Linked DNA regions of Homo sapiens. The protein of the gene in region 3 interacts with the protein of the main gene of each other region in a pairwise test. Each region holds a gene or a part of one and is shown on either strand. Other genes may lie near its edges.

Region 1 (7,972 bases), on a different chromosome or scaffold from region 3:
TTCTTTCACTTATTCTAAATGTCTCCACAACCATCATCAGCCCCAAAAATCCCTGTACTGAATTCTCTCCTCTCAGTCCAAATCCACTGCGGGTTCATCTGTATTCCAAGAGAACTTTGTTTTCTTTTTCTTCCTTTCCCTCAATCCTTTTAATCCTCTAGTTCAAGCAATTAGCTCTACAAATATTAGCTGCAATCAAGGTCTAGCACATGTGGTAATTTTCTCTCTAATAAATCAATCAATTCTTTCCATGGAGTGTTTTTTTCCTTTACAGTCATTAGAAAATTACAATGCTACTTGAGGATCACCAGCAACTTGAATTAGTCAAGGCACGTCAATCAAATTTGCCAGATTTTGCTTTAAAGATGAGAAAAATGGGGTAGATTTACAAAGGCCTCTTGTCTTAGAATAGGAAGCTTGATAGACCCTTGTTGAATCTCTCTTAGAGAGGCCTTGGAGTATAATGATCCATTTGGAGGAAAATCAAAATCAGTACTACCAGTGACAAATCAGACAAAACATAGAACCTCTCATTAAATAATCTAAAAATTAATAATTGGAATAATCAGCCATGCAGTGTCCCTGGGCAATGCAATATTCCGTAATAGCTAACAGGTTAGCACAGCAAAGAAAAAAGAGACATAATCTAGCAAATGGCCAAACTGTAGTTCTATGGCTTATTAAATTTTTTTTTCTTTAGTTAAATGGGAACTAAAGGAGCCAAACTGTGCTTCTCGAAGCTGTCTTTCACGTTGGGGATAGGACACTGTAGGGAGTAGGGAGCTGGGGAGCCCAGTGACAACTCCTTGATCACCCACCCTCCCAGTATAGCAGCTCGATTTTTGTCTTATTTCACACAAGTTGTGTTGAGGCAATGGTTTTTCTTCTTAAAAATGATTTGAGAATCACCTATGCAGCCCAGACCACTCTTTTCATAAATATGTAAAATTAATGCCAGAGAAGGAATTCTTAATTTAGCCATACAGCTGGAAATAGACCCTGGACAGGATCTTCCCATGCCATGCTATACTGTCTCTTATACTTGGCGAACAAACCAGGTGAGAATTTGCATCCCTTTGTAATGGGGCTGCTTTTTTTCTTTTGTTTTCAAATGGTTATAAGGAAAAACTGATGCAGCCAAGTTAGTGTGAGAAGAGGCACAAATGCTACACTGGAAGTGAAAACAGAGTCTGCAATTGTGCTCCTTTCTCTACAGAATCTCTAGTCACTCTGAAGAATTATATCATTATCCAGCACCTGAAAGGGGTCAGAGGAGGGGGAGGCCTAGTTCCATTTTCTTATGTCACCGAATGTATTCCTATTAAGATTGAGAGAAGTAAAGATTTCAGCAGGATACTTGGTGAAAACTTGCTGACATTAATGACTCAAATTCTCAGAGAGACTGCAAGGAAAATGGTGTCATCACTGTCATTCAAGACATTTAAGATGAAATTTCAAAAGAAGGCTGTCAGGCATAATGACTGCCAGGTTCCATTATATCATTCTCAGAGGGTGGATCACACACACTACTACGCAGCCTGTGGGTGGCTGATGCTGAAGTTTGAAAGGAAGCTGCATGGAGAAGAGGTGAGGGGGGCTGCCTCACATGAACAGGATACAGCACCATTGATATTCATATGGTGATTTGGGGGTAAATCTATGAATCGGGGCCTGGTCTTTTGTTGTGGATATGCTGAAACCTAGTGCTGAAAAAATGTAGGAAAGTTTGAGCTGTAAATGGTAGTGCCTATTTATTAATTTGCTATGAGCATATTCCTCTCTAGCGACCCAGATGCTCATGTCTGTGTGCATTCCAGCACTGAGATGCCTGCAAAGCCTAGTTTGTAATCAGTAGATAGCCATGTGAAAAGGAGATAAGGGCAGTGGCTTCCAACCTTGGCTGCACAATGCAATCACCTGGGGTGATTCGACGCTAAGGCCATACTCTAAAATCAAATAAATCTGAATCTCAGGGATGAGGACACAGACATCAGTACTTTTAAAATCTTCTCAAGTGATTCTAATGAGCAGCAAAACTGAGAACCACCGTGTCAAAGCAAAGGGTGAGGTTTTAGGCCTCAAAGGGTGAGTCTCACCCTTTCCACTCAGGGATCTTTTATGTCATAGAGCAGTGGGTTTGATTTGGTTTTGTTTTAAATCAGGAGTAGACATAGGTTTGCCAGTTTCTAAATTTGTCAAATAAAATCATTAAAAATTCAACTACCATTATCTCATTAAAGAAAGAAAATTTCAACAATAAAAATTAGGAAGGGCCTAACTTCAGGATATAAGAGTAACTCAGTATGTTGTATTTATTTTTCCCATGTCTCTACAGACGAGTGAACATGTCGCTACAGACTGATGCAAACTGATGCAACTGATGTGATCTAATTGCTCTCTACACCCATAATCAAGGCTTTCCTCCTTGGACAGCTTTAGATATACTTGGCTGAGTTTGGGTTAATTAAACCGCTGTCCTATGCTAACTATCCTTCTCTTGCCATATCCTTTAGTAGAGGTTATTAATAGTATTGATTAAGTTGTAGGTGATTTCTTCTCCCAGGCTTTGGAAATGTTCTGTCTCTTCCAATTACAGAATATGTTGATTTAGTAAGCTCAGCTCTGCTTAGACATCTTAAACTAAGTTTTCTAGGGTGACTGTGGCACATATATGCCCAAATAACCACTTATCAGGGGCACTGGCACCCCCTTGTTTTGCTAGTGGACCATGATAGCGATTATTCTAAATCCAGTGGTGAATTCATTGGAGGGCCAAATAAACTGAGATGAGTTGCTTATTCTGTGTTCTAGCAATTATTCTAAATCCAGTGGTGAATTCATTGGAAGGCCAAATAAACTGGGATGAGTTGCTTATTCTGTGTTAAGTTATACAAAATAAAAAAGACTTACTAATATTGTAAACTTTATTTTAAGTGCCTCTTTGGAATCTTCTATATGCCCAGTTCTTCTGTGGCCATGTTTTATATTGCCCCTCTTCTCCCCGAAGGTACATTGGCATTCTAGAATGAGTTCTATACTTAGTTGTCTGTCCTTAACGAGACTGGCTGTTGCGACTCCTAGGAGAGGCGAGCTGTGAGAGAAGTTTACCAGTACTCCGAGTCTATACCTCAAAGTTCCCTTCGAAGTGTGCATAATGTAGAGACTCATTTATGCTGAAAATGGTGTGAAATAAGTCTTCATTTATTAATTTCCTCTAAGCTGTCATGCTTAAAGGTGGATCAAAAGAATAGAAGCTAGCATACACATGTGCTTTTGGCCAACTGAAAAAGTTCTATTTACTGATGTCTGTGTTCTTCAAACACTCAATATGTGTAACTAATAATGGGCTAGTCTGCCCCTGTTACTCCTAGACGAACCCAACCCAAACTGAAATGTTTGCCATCTTTTCAAGGTCAGGGGCTTTGCTTGGAATAGAACATCAACCTCAGAAGTAGAAGACCTGGATTTGAATCCCAGCTCCACTACTCTCTTCAGCAAGTTGCTTAAACTCTCTGAGCCTCAATTCCCTTATATATAAGATACGAATAATTGCTTTTTCTTCTTCTTTCTTCTTTCTTATTCTTCTTCCTTCTTCCTTTCTCCTCCTCCTCCTCCTTCTTCTCCTCCTCCCTCCTCTTCTTCTTCCTCTTCTTCATTACTTTATATGCTAATTATGAGAATTACATATGATAATTTAGGTAGAATACTTCACAAGTTGCCAGACATAAGTTCTTACTAAACATTAACTTTGTAGGTCAGAGCTCAGGACAATAACATGGCATATAATAAACATTCACTAGACACTTCACACACACACACACACACACACACACACACACACACACACACACAGTCCTGTGTCTGTAGAAGGAGGAATCTCATTGGAAATGCAAAGTTAAAAAGCTGTTACTGAATTCTGAACTTTAGTTTCCAGGTCTTGACCGTTTAACCAGACCTACCTGCTGCTTAATCTTTGCTCATAACTGTCTCTAGTCTCCCAAACAGATTACCTTTGCTGAGACCTGTGCATTTTTATGATGAATCCATAGAGTCACCTATCTGACCACCATCCCTCTTTCCATCAATATGCCCTTATCTTTACAGATCCTGGTATTCCTTGGACCCAGAAACACATTCCCTTGCTATTATCCTAAAGCAGCTAAGCCTGTTAAAGGAAAGCATTTAGAAATCTAGATATCTGCTCCTGCATTTTCATATTTCTGTATGCCAAGAAAAATTTGAATCAAATTCTCTATTGATACATTAGGTATAAACCATGGATCTGGGAGAAATTAAGTTGGAAGGACAAGGACCCATGGTTGATCCAGAGCACTTAATATTCGTGTAGGACCAAATTCTGTTTAATATTTTTATCCTGCTGTAATTAAAAATTTTTGACATCAACTATCAATACAGGTACATATGTTCTCCCTACCTCTGCTAAAGCTCCTTCCCCCACCACCAAAAACAATAACAAACAAAAAACAAAAATAAAAACATCGATAAGTGAACTTCTCAAGTTGCTGAAAATGTACCATCAGATTCAAGCCTGTTTCTGAAAGTTTCAACTCACCCAATCAGACAAAAGGCTGAGGAAGGGAAACATTTATCAAGTTACACTGAGGACTCCATCTGTTATCTTCGACCTTTGTTACCAAGTGACACAGAGGAGATACTTGAAGGCAGTTTGAAAGACTTGTTTTACAGATTCTTAGTCCAAAGATTTCCAATTAGGGAGAAGAAGCAGCAGAAAAGGAGAAAAGCCAAGTATGAGTGATGATGAGGCCTTCATCTACTGACATTTAACCTGGCGAGAACCGTCGATGGTGAAGTTGCCTTTTCAGCTGGGAGCTGTCCGTTCAGCTTCCGTAATAAATGCAGTCAAAGAGGCAGTCCCTTCCCATTGCTCACAAAGGTCTTGTTTTTGAACCTCGCCCTCACAGAAGCCGTTTCTCATCATGCCAAGCCAACAGAAGAAAATCATTTTTTGCATGGCCGGAGTGTTCAGTTTTGCATGTGCCCTCGGAGTTGTGACAGCCTTGGGGACACCGTTGTGGATCAAAGCCACTGTCCTCTGCAAAACGGGAGCTCTGCTCGTCAATGCCTCAGGGCAGGAGCTGGACAAGTTTATGGGTGAAATGCAGTACGGGCTTTTCCACGGAGAGGGTGTGAGGCAGTGTGGGTTGGGAGCAAGGCCCTTTCGGTTCTCATGTAAGTAGCAATTGCATTTGAGTTATTTAATGCTTTAGGCAGACTCTTCCCAGTGTTGCGAGGAATTATATTTGAGAATTTTGCCGTGTTTACTGCAGGACTTTTTAAATCGGTGTGAACCATATGAAAAACCTATGACTCTGAGCAATTTCTTCTTCCTAGTTTTTATTATTTTATACTTGCTTTTTATTATAATATAGAGTTAATTCATTGTTACATAATTAAGGTTTTTGGAAATATTGGCAATTAAGATGCTTAAGTATTAATATTTATGTAAAAAATTATGGAGTCTTTTTAAAAAAGTAAACTTGGGGAAATAGGAAAGCTGTAAAGAATGATCTTTATGCTTTTTGTTCTTTATAAAAAGAACCAAGGTCATGGGCTCCGTATTTAACCAGGTTGCCACCTTTCTCATGATTTTGTTTCCTGCTCCCCACTCCCTCCCATTATTCCTGCTAAGACCTTTCCTGCTGCTAAATATTCAGTTTTCATTTTTAACTAATTTGGAATCATTTGGCTATAGAAATTTAAAATGATCTGCTGTGCTAACTGGGAAAGAAATGGATGCCTATTTAGTATAGAACATTTTAAACTGATTGACCTGCAAATCATGTAGAGAATATGAGAGAGATTTTCTTGTTGTGATTTTTGTGAAATGGAAGTGTAATCCACAGTATTTATAACCTGTTTATCTTAAGAAGAGAATTTTTAAAAATTACCATGTGAATAGGCAACTCATTAAATGAAAATTAATAGGAAGTCATTTGTTATATCTCTTACAACACACATTCAGAAGTTATTATTATTTCAGAAGGGCTGGTTTGGAACAACCTTATGAAGACACAGTCAGTAAATTACTGCATAAATCACTCTTCAGGAAAGGAGGTTACCAACTGAAGCATTTAAAATGAATTATTATTTTGCCCAGGTTTTTTTTTTCTTTCTAGTATAGGTAGAAGGCTAAATTAATTGAATTTATTATTAACATATGCAGTGCCTAATTAAATTTCAGTGCTGGTCTATTTATATTTCTGCAACATTCCTTATATCTTCTTAGCAGTCATTGGACACCAACCTTCAGCTCACATAGGTTACTAAGTGATATGAATTTTCATAGGGCTCCAGAAAATTTCCAAGAATTGGTTGTTAGCTTTTTAATTGATGAAGTGGATACCAGTTCTTTTCACTGAATGGCTTTTATTCATTAAGGTAATGGGGCTGTTAGAGTTGCTTAGTTTTCCTGGGGAAGGGGAAGGAAGAAAACAAAGCAGAATGTCATGTGATATGCAACTGTATTAAAAAACCGAAAAGGAAAAAAGTTGAGAGAGATGATTTAACCGTGAGTCACCGGCAGCCAAAGCGTGAGTAAAGCTTCTCACAGATGAATTTAGACAAAAGCGGAGAAGGTACTGGTGAATTTTCTGGAGCCTTTACATTTTCTACAGTGAAATGGAGATAAACTTTACTCATGCCATAGGACATGTTTCAAAACAATAATAAGATGTTTTCTGAACACTTACTACATACTAAGCACTTTATATGCTTTGTCTCATTTAATCCTTACACAGCCACATTCTTCTGGGGTTTAGCGAATGATTTTTGTGGTTGTGTCCTATGCTTGTCCTGTCTAAGGATGAAGTTGTTCTAATTGGGTGCCCCTCCTTTTGCTTTCTGTGAGGACTTGCAGAACTGGTGGGGTTTAAACAGTACCCTCACTTATCTCACAGAATTTCATTAGCTCCCAGATACCCCTGACATTCTCCCCCTAGCCTAGTGAAGAAAATCTTCCATTTACTTGTTCATTCTGCAGTGACAGCTCCATCAATATACAATAGACTATACATATTAAGTGTACTGTATATACTATACATGTTAAAAATCTCATTCATTTTGGTGAGGCCCAGCTAAGAATACTTACAGTAGAGCTTTTTTTTTTTTCCTAAGCATAAAAGTATCTTTTTCAATGCAGCATGAGACAGAGTTGGGAAAACCAAAATAAATAGATCCAATGGACTCCCCAAAGAGGATAATATTCATTTAAATAAACACCCCTCTCAGTGTTAAAACTTTCTAATCAACATGCCTTTGGGACACATTGCACCCTCAAAGTTTACACTCCCATTGCAACGCAGCTTTGTGGTTCACGTTTTTTCCATTCAGAATGTCATTACCCTGTCAATGATGTTTCATCAACGTTTGCTTGGATGAGAATCCTCTGATATTCTTCCTGATAGAAATGTATAAGCCCTGTTCATATAAATGAATAAAAGATCTAACCTTACTTTCTCAGTAGTGGCTTCCTTGGAGCAAAAAGCAGGGACCTCCAGAGAGCTCAGGTGGATGACTCTTTTCTGTTTCTTCCAGAGCTCAACTTACAATTAGTGCACAATTCATTTCCCAGAATGTCTTCTTTCTTATTGTGCCTTTAGAAAGTTATTAAGCAAACATTTGAATTCACAGAATCTTACCAGTGTAAGAGGAATGGAAAAGGTAACTTATCAAGGTAACAATCACTTCGTGGCCAGTTTTTTCGGCTCACTGCAACTACCCCTCCTGGGTTCAAGCGATTCTCCTGCCTCAGCCTCCCAAGTAGCTGGGACTACAGGCGTGCACCACCATGCCCAGCTAATTTTTTTTTTGTATTTTTAGTAAAGACAGGGTTTCACCATGTGGGCCAGGCTGGTCTCATGGCAAGTTTTCTTTGTGTTGTCATGTTATTATCAATTAATAGGAATTTATATTTCAGTTCTGTTAGGTGGAT
Region 2 (4,779 bases), on a different chromosome or scaffold from region 3:
TAGTTCAACTGAAGTGATGCATGGACAGGGTTGGGAAAGGCTTCAGGGAGGAAGCGGCTTTTAAGCTGGGCCTTGGTTAGGCAGGGCCGCCATGAGAGGGATGGTGGAGAGCAAAGGATCGGAGGCAAGCGAAGGCTGGATGGATACAGTGACCAGAGGCTGGCAGTGCTCTTGGCTCATCCCCAACTCTGTACCCCGGCGGGTGGTGGGGACAGCAGTGGAGGCTCTACTCAGCCCTAACCCCAAGCCTACAAGTCCTTCCCAACAGGGACGATGGAAGGGGTTTCAATGCCCACCTGCCTCAAGAGGAAAGCTTTGGAATGGGGAATGGAGAATGGCAGGGAATCCCCAGACTTCAGGGGCGGGATATACCTGAGGGATGCTGATGGCCCCAGGCACTGGACGCAGACTCAACCATGGTGCTGGCAACTAGACCCTTGTCAAGGGTAATAGGGTCCCAAGAATACCAAGACGCTATGAGCTAAGGGGCAAGGGGGCCCCAGAGAGGGAGAAAACAATGACAGGGCACCAACTGGAGTCAAAACTCTTTATTGTCCTGCCCAGGGAGCCCTTCCCAAAGGAATCCACAGAGCAGGGGGGCGAGGCGGGCGGCACAGGGCCTTGGTGACAACGTGAAGGGGGAGCTGGAGTTAGGTGGGGGACAGCCCCTTCAGCTCCCTGATGGCACTGGCTGTGCTGGCAGGCCACCCAGGGGAGCCATCACCAGCATGAGGTCCACACCTGGGGCTGGGGCTGAGTGCTGTCTACACTGCTCTGTCTACACGGTTACTCTGGCACTTGTCAGGTCCACTCACCTCTCTGGCCTCAAACTGCAGGGGGAGATGGGTCCAATGCTGGGAGGCACTGGGAGGCCGTGGAACAGTGAAGAGCGGACTGCACGGGCTGGAGGATGCCAGATGGGCACACATGTCCCCCAGGGCAGCTGCCGGCAGGAGTCTGACAAAGGGACCCAGCCAGCCCCTCTGGACCATTCTAGAGGCCAGTGGTGAAGGTCCTGAAGCAACTTGGCTTATAGAGACACGTTAAGTGTACCCGGTGCACCCCATGCTGGGACCAGCTCTGGTCCCAGGGCCACCTTGACAGGTGAGCCCAAATGTCCTCCTCTCCCCATACTGGGCACTGGGCTGAGGCAGGACCCCAGCAGGTGGTGGCGGGAGCAGCTCTACAGCGGGAAGCCAAAGCCTTTCAACAGAAGAACAAAGGGGCTTCCAGGGCCGGAGTCACAGGCCTGGGGAGGAGGGGACAGGGTGCTTCTGAGAGGCAGGGAGACAACAAACCCCCACTTCATGCTGGTCCTCAGTCCTTCCATCCTGCCAGCCCCGACCCCCGGTCCACAACAGCAGGCCCAACCCTGCCTTTTGGGGTGAGGAGAAAAAAATCTGGAACCAAAAGGGATGGCGGCTGTTTCCTCGGGACCCTGGTGGGTGTGGGGCCACCGAGCAGCCATCACCGGAGGTTAAAGACCAGGCTGACGGTGAGGATGATGCCCAGGAGAAGGATGAAGGGCAGCCAGGTCTTCACGAAGGCCCCAACGCTGACAGAGAGAAAGGAGCGAGCATAGGTGGGCAGGGCCTGGTGAGCAGGCATGCGGCCCGCAGCCCTGAGCACCCACAGACCCCAATAGGGCTGCCATCCCTAAGGAAAACCCAACCACCCCCTCACCCCAAACTTGGCCAATCAAGGAAGCAGGCTGGGCATGGTTGCCCACTATGGGGGATCACCAGCTATGGTCCCGGGCAGGGGCTGCTCCGCGCTCCTGGTGATTTACTGACACCTCGCTGGTTGGGAACAGGAAACATGCTCCCCATTTCTAGGCCTCACTGGCTCCATCTATAGCCACCTACCTCTAGGGTCTCCAGCAAGAGGACCAGGAATTGCAGTTTGGGTATGGAAGCCACGTGTGCCCTCTGCCTATGGACTTCATAATGGGGACTACTGGGAGCTCTGGGGCTGGCAAGGGTCAGCAGTGTTGTGGCTGGAGCCAAGCAGCTGGGAGCCAGGGGTCTGGGTTCAACCTCTGTGTGACCAGTTATTCTCAGGGGACTTCTAAAAGCCATGCAGTACTTAAAAATATCCCTAAAAGTCTTCTTTTCAGAACCTCTTAATGATGAACGTGGCTAAGAGGAAAGCTTGGAGAGGCGGCCAGATCAGCACTAACCTATGCTGGCTCACGAGTCTGGGCTCTGCTGTGTCCATGCTGTGGCGACCATGGGCGACTCACTCAATCTCTCTGCCTAGGAAGGGACCTGTGGGGCAGTCATTATGAGAGGATCTATCTGCTCACTTTACCGGAGCACAGGGATCCGTAGAAGCCTCCCTGAGGAGCCGGAATCATTGCCTGCATTTCACCAGAGACAGCTGTGGCTAAGAGAGACCAAGGCAGTTGCCCATGGTCTCACAGCAGGCAAGAGCCAGAGCTGCATTTGGGGCCCAGGTGGAGCTGGACTTCAGCACAGCCACCTCCCTCTCCATCAGGCCCTCAGCTCGTCACTCTAGAACCACCACGGCTCCAACTGGCATCTGTTCCAACTGTCCTGGCTGACTGAAGGACGCTAGGAATGGTCTTTCTAGGATCCTTGGGAGAGCAGCCTCTGGGCAGTGTGTGGGTGGGCAGGCAGGAGGGCAGCTCACCTGACGTACTTCCCGTAGAGCAGGCAGAAGAAGCAGAGCGTCACCATATTCCAGTTGGTGCTGTTGTTGTAGCGCATCAGATTCAGGGCCAATGCCACGTGCGAGTGGCAGTTGTCACAGCAGAGATTGTGCTGGAGGCACCAGAAGGGCTGGTCAGGATGGGCTGCAGGGGAGCCTCCCCCCTGGTCCCCACCTGGGGAGTGCCGGTGCCGCCCTGGCCCACCTACCATGCGGTGCTTGTACTCCTCAGAGGCGTCGTGCACAGCCGTGTCCCATGCGTTGGGCCCGCTAGCATAGACCTGAGCAGGGTCCAACTTCCAGTACCTGGGGGGAGAGAAGGGCTCTGGACACTTGCTTGGCTCCTTTGTGCCCTCAGCTCTACGCACGTCCTCTGAGGCCTGCCCTGTGCCCGGGCCTGAGCTGGGTGCTGAGATGTACAGTAAGCCAGATCTGGGGCAAGTGTTATGTGGCAGTCAACTGTGACACAGGGTGAGGTGGCTGGTGCCATGGGGGATCCTGGGGGGATATGGAATGAAATTGGGGGTGCTATGCTCTGAAAGTCTGTGTCCCCAAGTTCATATGTTGAAATCTTAACCCTCAAGGTGATGGTATGAGGAGGTGGGGCCTTTGGGAGGTGATTAGGCCATGGGGTGATTAGCTCTCATGAATGGGATCCGTGTCCTTATAAAAGAGCCCTGAGGGAGACCCCTCACCCCTCCACCACGTGGGGACACAGTGGAAAGGCACCTCAGGCCCTCACCAGACACTGACTCTACCAGCACCCGCACCCAGGACTGTCCAGTCTTCGGAACTGTGAGAAATACATTTCTGTTGTTTCTAAGATACCCAATTGATGAGATTTTGTTATGGCAGCCAGAACGGACTAAGATGGGGTGTGAGAAGGCTTCCTGGAGGTGACACCTGGGTCCAGTATGAAGGAAGAGGGTTAGGCAGGCATAGAAAGAAGAGGTGGGCATTCCAGGCTGAGGGAACAGCTTAAGCTAAGTGACAGGCATAAAACTGTGCAGCATGTCCCATAACTGAAGTGACTGAGCCCTCCTGGAGGATGCAGAAAGAGAAACACGGTGATGGAATGCTGGCAGCTAAGGCTGGAGATGCAGGTGAGGCCACATCACGCGGGGAGTTTACCCAGCAGCAAGCACTCTCCCCTAGTCTCCCAGGCAGCTTGCCAGGGTGAGTGGCAGGGAAGCTGATGGTGCTAAAGCCCATAAACCTCAAGGTGGGTGAGAATTGCTGTTCCAAGCACCAGAGTGCCCGGTGGGTCTCAGGCCAAGGAGAGCTGGGAGGTCAGGGCGCCCCCTGGCTGTTGTGTAGGGGAATGGCTTGGTGGAGGAGTCTAGAGACCATGGCCTGGACTGGGGCCGCTTAGGGGCTACTGCTTGGAAAATGATGCCCTTAAAACTGTCCTTGAAGAGCAGTCTGGCAGCGAACACCTGGTGGCCCAGAGACTCCTGGACTACACTGCTGCCTGCCGGAGGAAGCCAGAGAGGGCAGCAGGAAGCCCTGCTCCAGGCCATCTCAGCTGTGTGGGACACCAACTCCTCCTCGGCCCAGTCTCTCCTCCCAGTGCAGCCTTGGGCAACAGGTCACCTGAGGACACTGATGACTGAGGCACTCTCACCAGGCCCACAGCTGAGGTGGGCACCCGAGACTGCAAAGATGAAGACCAAATGTCCCAAACCAAACCAGCAATAGCTCCCAGAAGGTTGAACGGTTTTTATTCTCTCCAACCAGAACTTTCCAGCAGAGCTCCAAACAATGCCTCTCTTCTACCTTCCATGCCTCATTTGTTCCCAAAGGGCAGGAGAGTGAGTCTAGAGGGAGACAGATCTGGGTGTGGGTCCCAGCTCTGCCACTTCCTGTGTGACCTTGACCAAGTCCCTTCCCTTTCCTCACCCTTGCCATGGAGTTGAAAATACAAACCTGAAGAGCTGTGGCAAGGCCCAGATGGTCTACAGGTAAAGGCCCTAGCCAGGGGCTGGTGCGGTACACACTCTGTATGGGGTTGCCATGCTCTGGTGGACCCTGGCTGACCTCTCCCCCGACCCCAAATACTCTATTCTCAGGGTGCTGGCCCCTCCTGTGCCCCAGAAGGCCTGGCCCGCC
Region 3 (5,152 bases):
ACCCTTCACCCTCTGATAGGTCCCAGTGTCTGTTGTTCCCCTCTATGTATCTTTTTTCAGGTGACATGCATCTGGAGAATAGTACACATAGCCTTCAGTGTAAGAAAAAGCAAACCAGAGTTCACTTCACCCTTAGGCACATAAGAAAAGTTCTTTCTTTTTCCTTTCATCACAATGGCAGAGTGAAAGGCAAAAGATGTGTGAGGCTGAGTAGAGACTGAATGTGATTAAGTGTCACTAGACTGGTCAGCTTTCTATCTAAAAGCCATTGCAGCTAATTTCCCAATTCATATTCATGTAGGAACATAAGACAGAAATACCGAACACATGGAAGGGGCTGTTCAGAAGGTGAGATGTTACAGAGAAGTCTACATACCACGCATACCAATCAACCTGAGTGAACAAACATCACTATACCCCTATGAAATTAGATGTATAGAAACTTCCTTAGAGTAGTCTGAAACTTTAGGGTTTGTCAACATTGTTTAACAAAGCCACAATTTAGGAAAAAAAACCAACAATTATATGCATATACTTTTAATGAAGGATATAGGAAGATAAAGCTGGCCAGCATTTGTCAATATTTCTGCACCAAGACACATGGTTTTAAGAATACTATATACAATCATTTTGAGCAGATTGGTGGGAAAAATAATTGTAGCAGATTGGCAACCTATGCTTAACTTCTGAGGTCTCCTTTTCTGGCACTCTAATATAGTTCATATATTACCAAGACCCACTGCCAGCTTTCCTTTTATGTTCCTTCACTGATTAAGCCAGCAGAGTGAAAGTAATTATTCCTTGAATGCATCTTATCTAATTTTTTTTTCCTTTAATGCCATTCCCTACTAACAATCTATTTCCTGGTATATTGAATTCATTGTTGGTTTTAACTCATTCTGCTGATGGCTGTGTACCATCCTGCTACAAAGAACACATTTAATGGTTTTGAACACTGTGCAGGACACAGACCTAACCCTTTTAGGGAAGTAAACAGTCATGGGTTGCATGCTACTAGGAGCCACCCATTCATTATTATATAATACCCGCATGCAAAAGGCTACAATTTAATATGGTACATTACAGCTATGGTTAAAGAAATGCAGATGTACCATACCTCATCAACCAATTCCTAACGAGATGGAACTCATTAATTTTCTAAGAATATGGATCTTGTCCAAGGGCCTGACAATCTCATTAGATGCCCCCTGTGCTTCTCCATAGAACGTCTTCTGTACCGAATCTCTTAGCTACTCTGAGAGCAGAGATTCTGGAATGTATAAATCTAATGTTCTTCACATGCTGTGTTTCTTAGACTCTTTTTCTAAAAGGAGAAAACAGATAATCATTCTTTTAAATTAAAGTATTTGCTCCTGCTGAAGAGGCAGCCTGCTTTGGAGAAAATGTGTATGTGTGTGTGTGTGTGTGTGTGTGTGTGTGTACATGTGCATACATGTATGTAGATATGTGTGATGAGAGGTGAAAAGAATAGGCTTTCAATGACTGTTACATTCCTATGAATTTGGGCCCTGTTAAATTAATTTTAGGTTCATGTTACAATAATGTATAATATTCAGTATTCTTAAAACTTACTTGCTAGGATTGTGCTTAAATCTCCATTAACCTCAATGTCTATACTTTGTGCAATTTGGTATAAACATGGAGTGCATTCTTTACCTTGGCAATGTCTGCCCTGAGATTGGGCTCTATGGTGCCACAGGAGGTAATGGCACTGGTTGATGCCACATAGTGTGAAAAATATGTGTCACATGGGGCTAGTAGGGGAAAGAGGCACATATTGCATTCTTATCACATAGAAAGTAAGAGTTGTACAAATTGCATACTTTTCAGATTTTTGACAAAATGTGACTCTTTCAGAATGTGATCCTGTTGTAATTACTCTCAAAATTCTAACTGCTCCATGATAATTCCAGTCCTGGGAAGCCAAGTTACTTTAACAATGTACTGAACATGGTAACTGTGAGCCCTGCATAAGACAGCTGTGTTCCATTGGGGACCACTTAATCTCTTTTCCCCTTAATTTTTCCAGCTGTACCATGGGGAACAATTTTTTTATTCTGTCTCTTTCTGAGGACGCTGTTGGAGTGAATGGAAGAACATTAACAAAGTGCTCTAAGTCCTGCAAGAACAAATCAGCAATGAGAGCATGGACAAAAGAATGGAGTACATTATTTTGCTTAGAAATACTGTATGGTTAAGCTTTTCATTCCAGTCCTATAATTAAAGACATATAAGAGCACTAGAAAGTGACATAGCACCCTTCAGCAGTAGGATCCTAACAATGAGTATCTTCATTTTGCAAACGGAGAAAATGAGTATCAACAATTAGGGAATGAGATTCCACAGAGGTTATTGGACAGGGATCCAAAGAAAAGCAAGCAAAGAAGCCAGATCAGGGTGTGCTAATTATTAAATAAAGTTCTGTATTCTTGATTAATAATCAACCAGTTGGGTACCTATGTACATTAGTCAATACTCAAATGATCCATGGATAGGGATATTATCAGAGTCTATAAACCAATGAGACCAAAATGCTAAGATAGGAATAGGTTTTCTTTTTATCTCTGAGCCCCTGGTAAAACCCTGATTTATTTGGCTTTTTTTTTTTTTTTTTTTTTTTTTGAGACAGAGTTTCACTCTTATTGCCCAGGCCGGAGTGCAATGGCACGATCTCAGCTCACCACAACCTCTACCTCCCAGGTTCAAGCGATTCTCCTGCCTCAGCCTCCTGAGTAGCTGGGATTACAGTCATGCACCAACACTCCTGGCTAATTTTTGTATTTTTAGTAGAGACAGGGTTTCTCCATGTTGGTCAGGCTGGTCTTGAACTCCCGACCTCAGGTGGTCCGGCCGCCTTGGGCTCCCAAAATGTTGGGATTACAGGTGTGAGCCACTGCGCCCAGCCTTATTTGGCCTTTTAAAGACAGTGTAAATCTGTAAGACATTAAACAATCAGCTTTGCATTACATCTTTCCTGAGCTTTACCTCTCCGGAACTTCCTTATAGTTAACTGACACTATATTTTGTGACTTGACTTCTGTGGGAGCTGAGTGCTGATACACCCTATGCATCAAAGAAGTTCTTGATGTTTTTCTGACTTTGAATCACAGTTAACAGCTGCTCTGCCTGAATGCTTGGCAGAAGATGATTGATGGGAAAGAGGAAGATTACTTTGAGGCCTACTTGCTGTGTAGTAAGTAAAGGCCATACATGTAGAAAAAGGTGCATATCTATATGAATAGAAGACAAGGCTTGTCTGTCATAAAACCATGGGAATGGCCAAATAAGGTTTCAGGAAAAACCGAAATGAGAGTATTTTGAGAAAGAGTGTAAGGGGAAATTTTTTTCCATCTGAATATATAAGAAGATTTCATCTTGAAACCCAGTGTGTGCATAGTCATCTAGGCTGCTTTTTAGCTTCTGAGTTTGAGAAAGTCACTAGCCCTAATAAGTGTAGTCATGTCTAGTATTCTCTCAAATGTAATGCTGACCACAATCCATTTAATTTATGCCAAAAGTCTCACCTTGGTCAAAATTACCTAGGGATCCAGATGAACAGGTTTTGTTGTTGCTTTAAGTAGCTGGATTGTTCACTTTCTCAGCTCCACTGGAACCCCAACACTAAATTGTGGCAGGCAACTCTTTTTTACTCAAACATATTTCAGGGAAGATAAATTAGTAAGCCAAACCATCCCTCTAGAAGCTCAATTCCTTGATACCTGTAAGATGCTTCTAAATTCCACTGATCTCTAAAAGAGTTGGAGCTTTTATTGTCAGCAGCTGGGCACTAGACTGCTGGATGAAAAAATGAAAGATATCAATACTCTTAAGATATTATTATTGTAAAGAATCAGTACTAGTATTCTCACTCATTGATTCAGGCACTAGGACTAAAAGAAAGGCTGATTATAAATAAATGGGGAAATTGATGCAAACTGTATTAATGGCTTAGCTACTACTGAAGCTAAAAAAAGAAGAAAGAACTGGCATATTACTATTTGGTTATCACTGTCTGTACAATAGCCCCTGCTATGAAAACACAGCTCTTTAGTGCTAATCCTCAGGCTAATGTCAGCTGTGAAACTTTACCCTTATGAAAGGCAGTGAAATTAAACCTGAAAATCACTCTGAAAACCCTTAACAAAACCTATGGGCCATAACTTAGGCTTATAGATTTTCTTTCATCATAAAATAACTCATAAAGGCTAAAATAAAACTAGGAAGCAGATAAATGAATAAAAGTAATTGGAGAATTTTACTGCACCCTGACAAAAAAGTCTTTAAAAAACACTGGTTATTATGTTCAATAAAGTTTATGTCCTGAATTTGATCTTCTTGAGTAGCTGTGGTGCTTTCAGGAACATTTGTGACAGAACAGGTTTTACATTGTTGTTCAAATTCCAATTTGAGGACCTTGGTCACAGTGTACTGATTCACCCTCCCAAATTTTAGATACTTGATATAGCGATGATTCAAAGTCTAGCAAATATTTAAGTTGCTATTTAGAGGAAAAGCATAATTAAACAAAGGCTTCAGGTTTTTAGCCCTGATTTTCACACTATAGCAGAATTTTGTATAGATATGCTGTACGTGTTCACAAATGCACACGCACACAAGCAGCAAATGTAGTTTGATTCCCTTCAACACCAAAAAGGCCCTATATATGTGATTAATAATCTTTGTGGGGGAATTAAAGACTCTAAGGAAATTTTCTGAATTTCCTTTTACCTGATAAGATGAATGAAAAGATATATTTTACATTTAGGCTTTCATGGATTGGGGGAGGGGAAATGAAGAAACAAAAAAAATTGGCTTGAATTAACTGCTACCAAATTCCAAATTGGATTTCAGTCAGTAAATTAAATAACATAAAGTCCAGAAACATTTACACAGCAAGTATTTGATGGAATTCTTTCAAATTTTGAAGCTTTCAATCCAACACGGTGACTTATTTTGAAGATTACAATGATTTCCAACATTGAACTCTGTAAGCCTCATGGGAGGCAGAGATGGTGAGTCCTGGGAATGAAGAGAAGAAATTCACAGATGAGCTGAACAACTGTAAATATTCATGTGGTAACACCCACTTGACAATAATATGCAACCATTAAAATTACATTTATGAAGAGTA

Evidence for each region. Proteins that work in one complex are often made in the same cells at the same time.
Region 1: the proteins of ZDHHC15 (region 3) and CLRN1 interact in binary tests that used the Homo sapiens proteins (3 or more experiments, as listed by UniProt).
Region 2: the proteins of ZDHHC15 (region 3) and TMEM222 interact in binary tests that used the Homo sapiens proteins (3 or more experiments, as listed by UniProt).

What each region holds. Positions count from the first base shown.
Region 1 is NC_000003.12:150,969,695-150,977,666, reverse strand, and holds the start of CLRN1 (clarin-1), read left to right. Parts: upstream 1-4,939; 5' UTR 4,940-4,958; coding exon 4,959-5,211; intron 5,212-7,972. UniProt on the Homo sapiens protein: May have a role in the excitatory ribbon synapse junctions between hair cells and cochlear ganglion cells and presumably also in analogous synapses within the retina.
Region 2 is NC_000001.11:27,332,155-27,336,933, reverse strand, and holds the end of TMEM222 (transmembrane protein 222), read right to left. Parts: intron 2,977-4,779; coding exon 2,880-2,976; intron 2,784-2,879; coding exon 2,653-2,783; intron 2,268-2,652; exon of another isoform or gene 2,180-2,267; intron 1,556-2,179; coding exon 1,468-1,555; 3' UTR 534-1,467; downstream 1-533.
Region 3 is NC_000023.11:75,367,906-75,373,057, forward strand, and holds the end of ZDHHC15 (palmitoyltransferase ZDHHC15), read right to left. Parts: intron 5,041-5,152; 3' UTR 522-5,040; downstream 1-521. UniProt on the Homo sapiens protein: Palmitoyltransferase that catalyzes the addition of palmitate onto various protein substrates.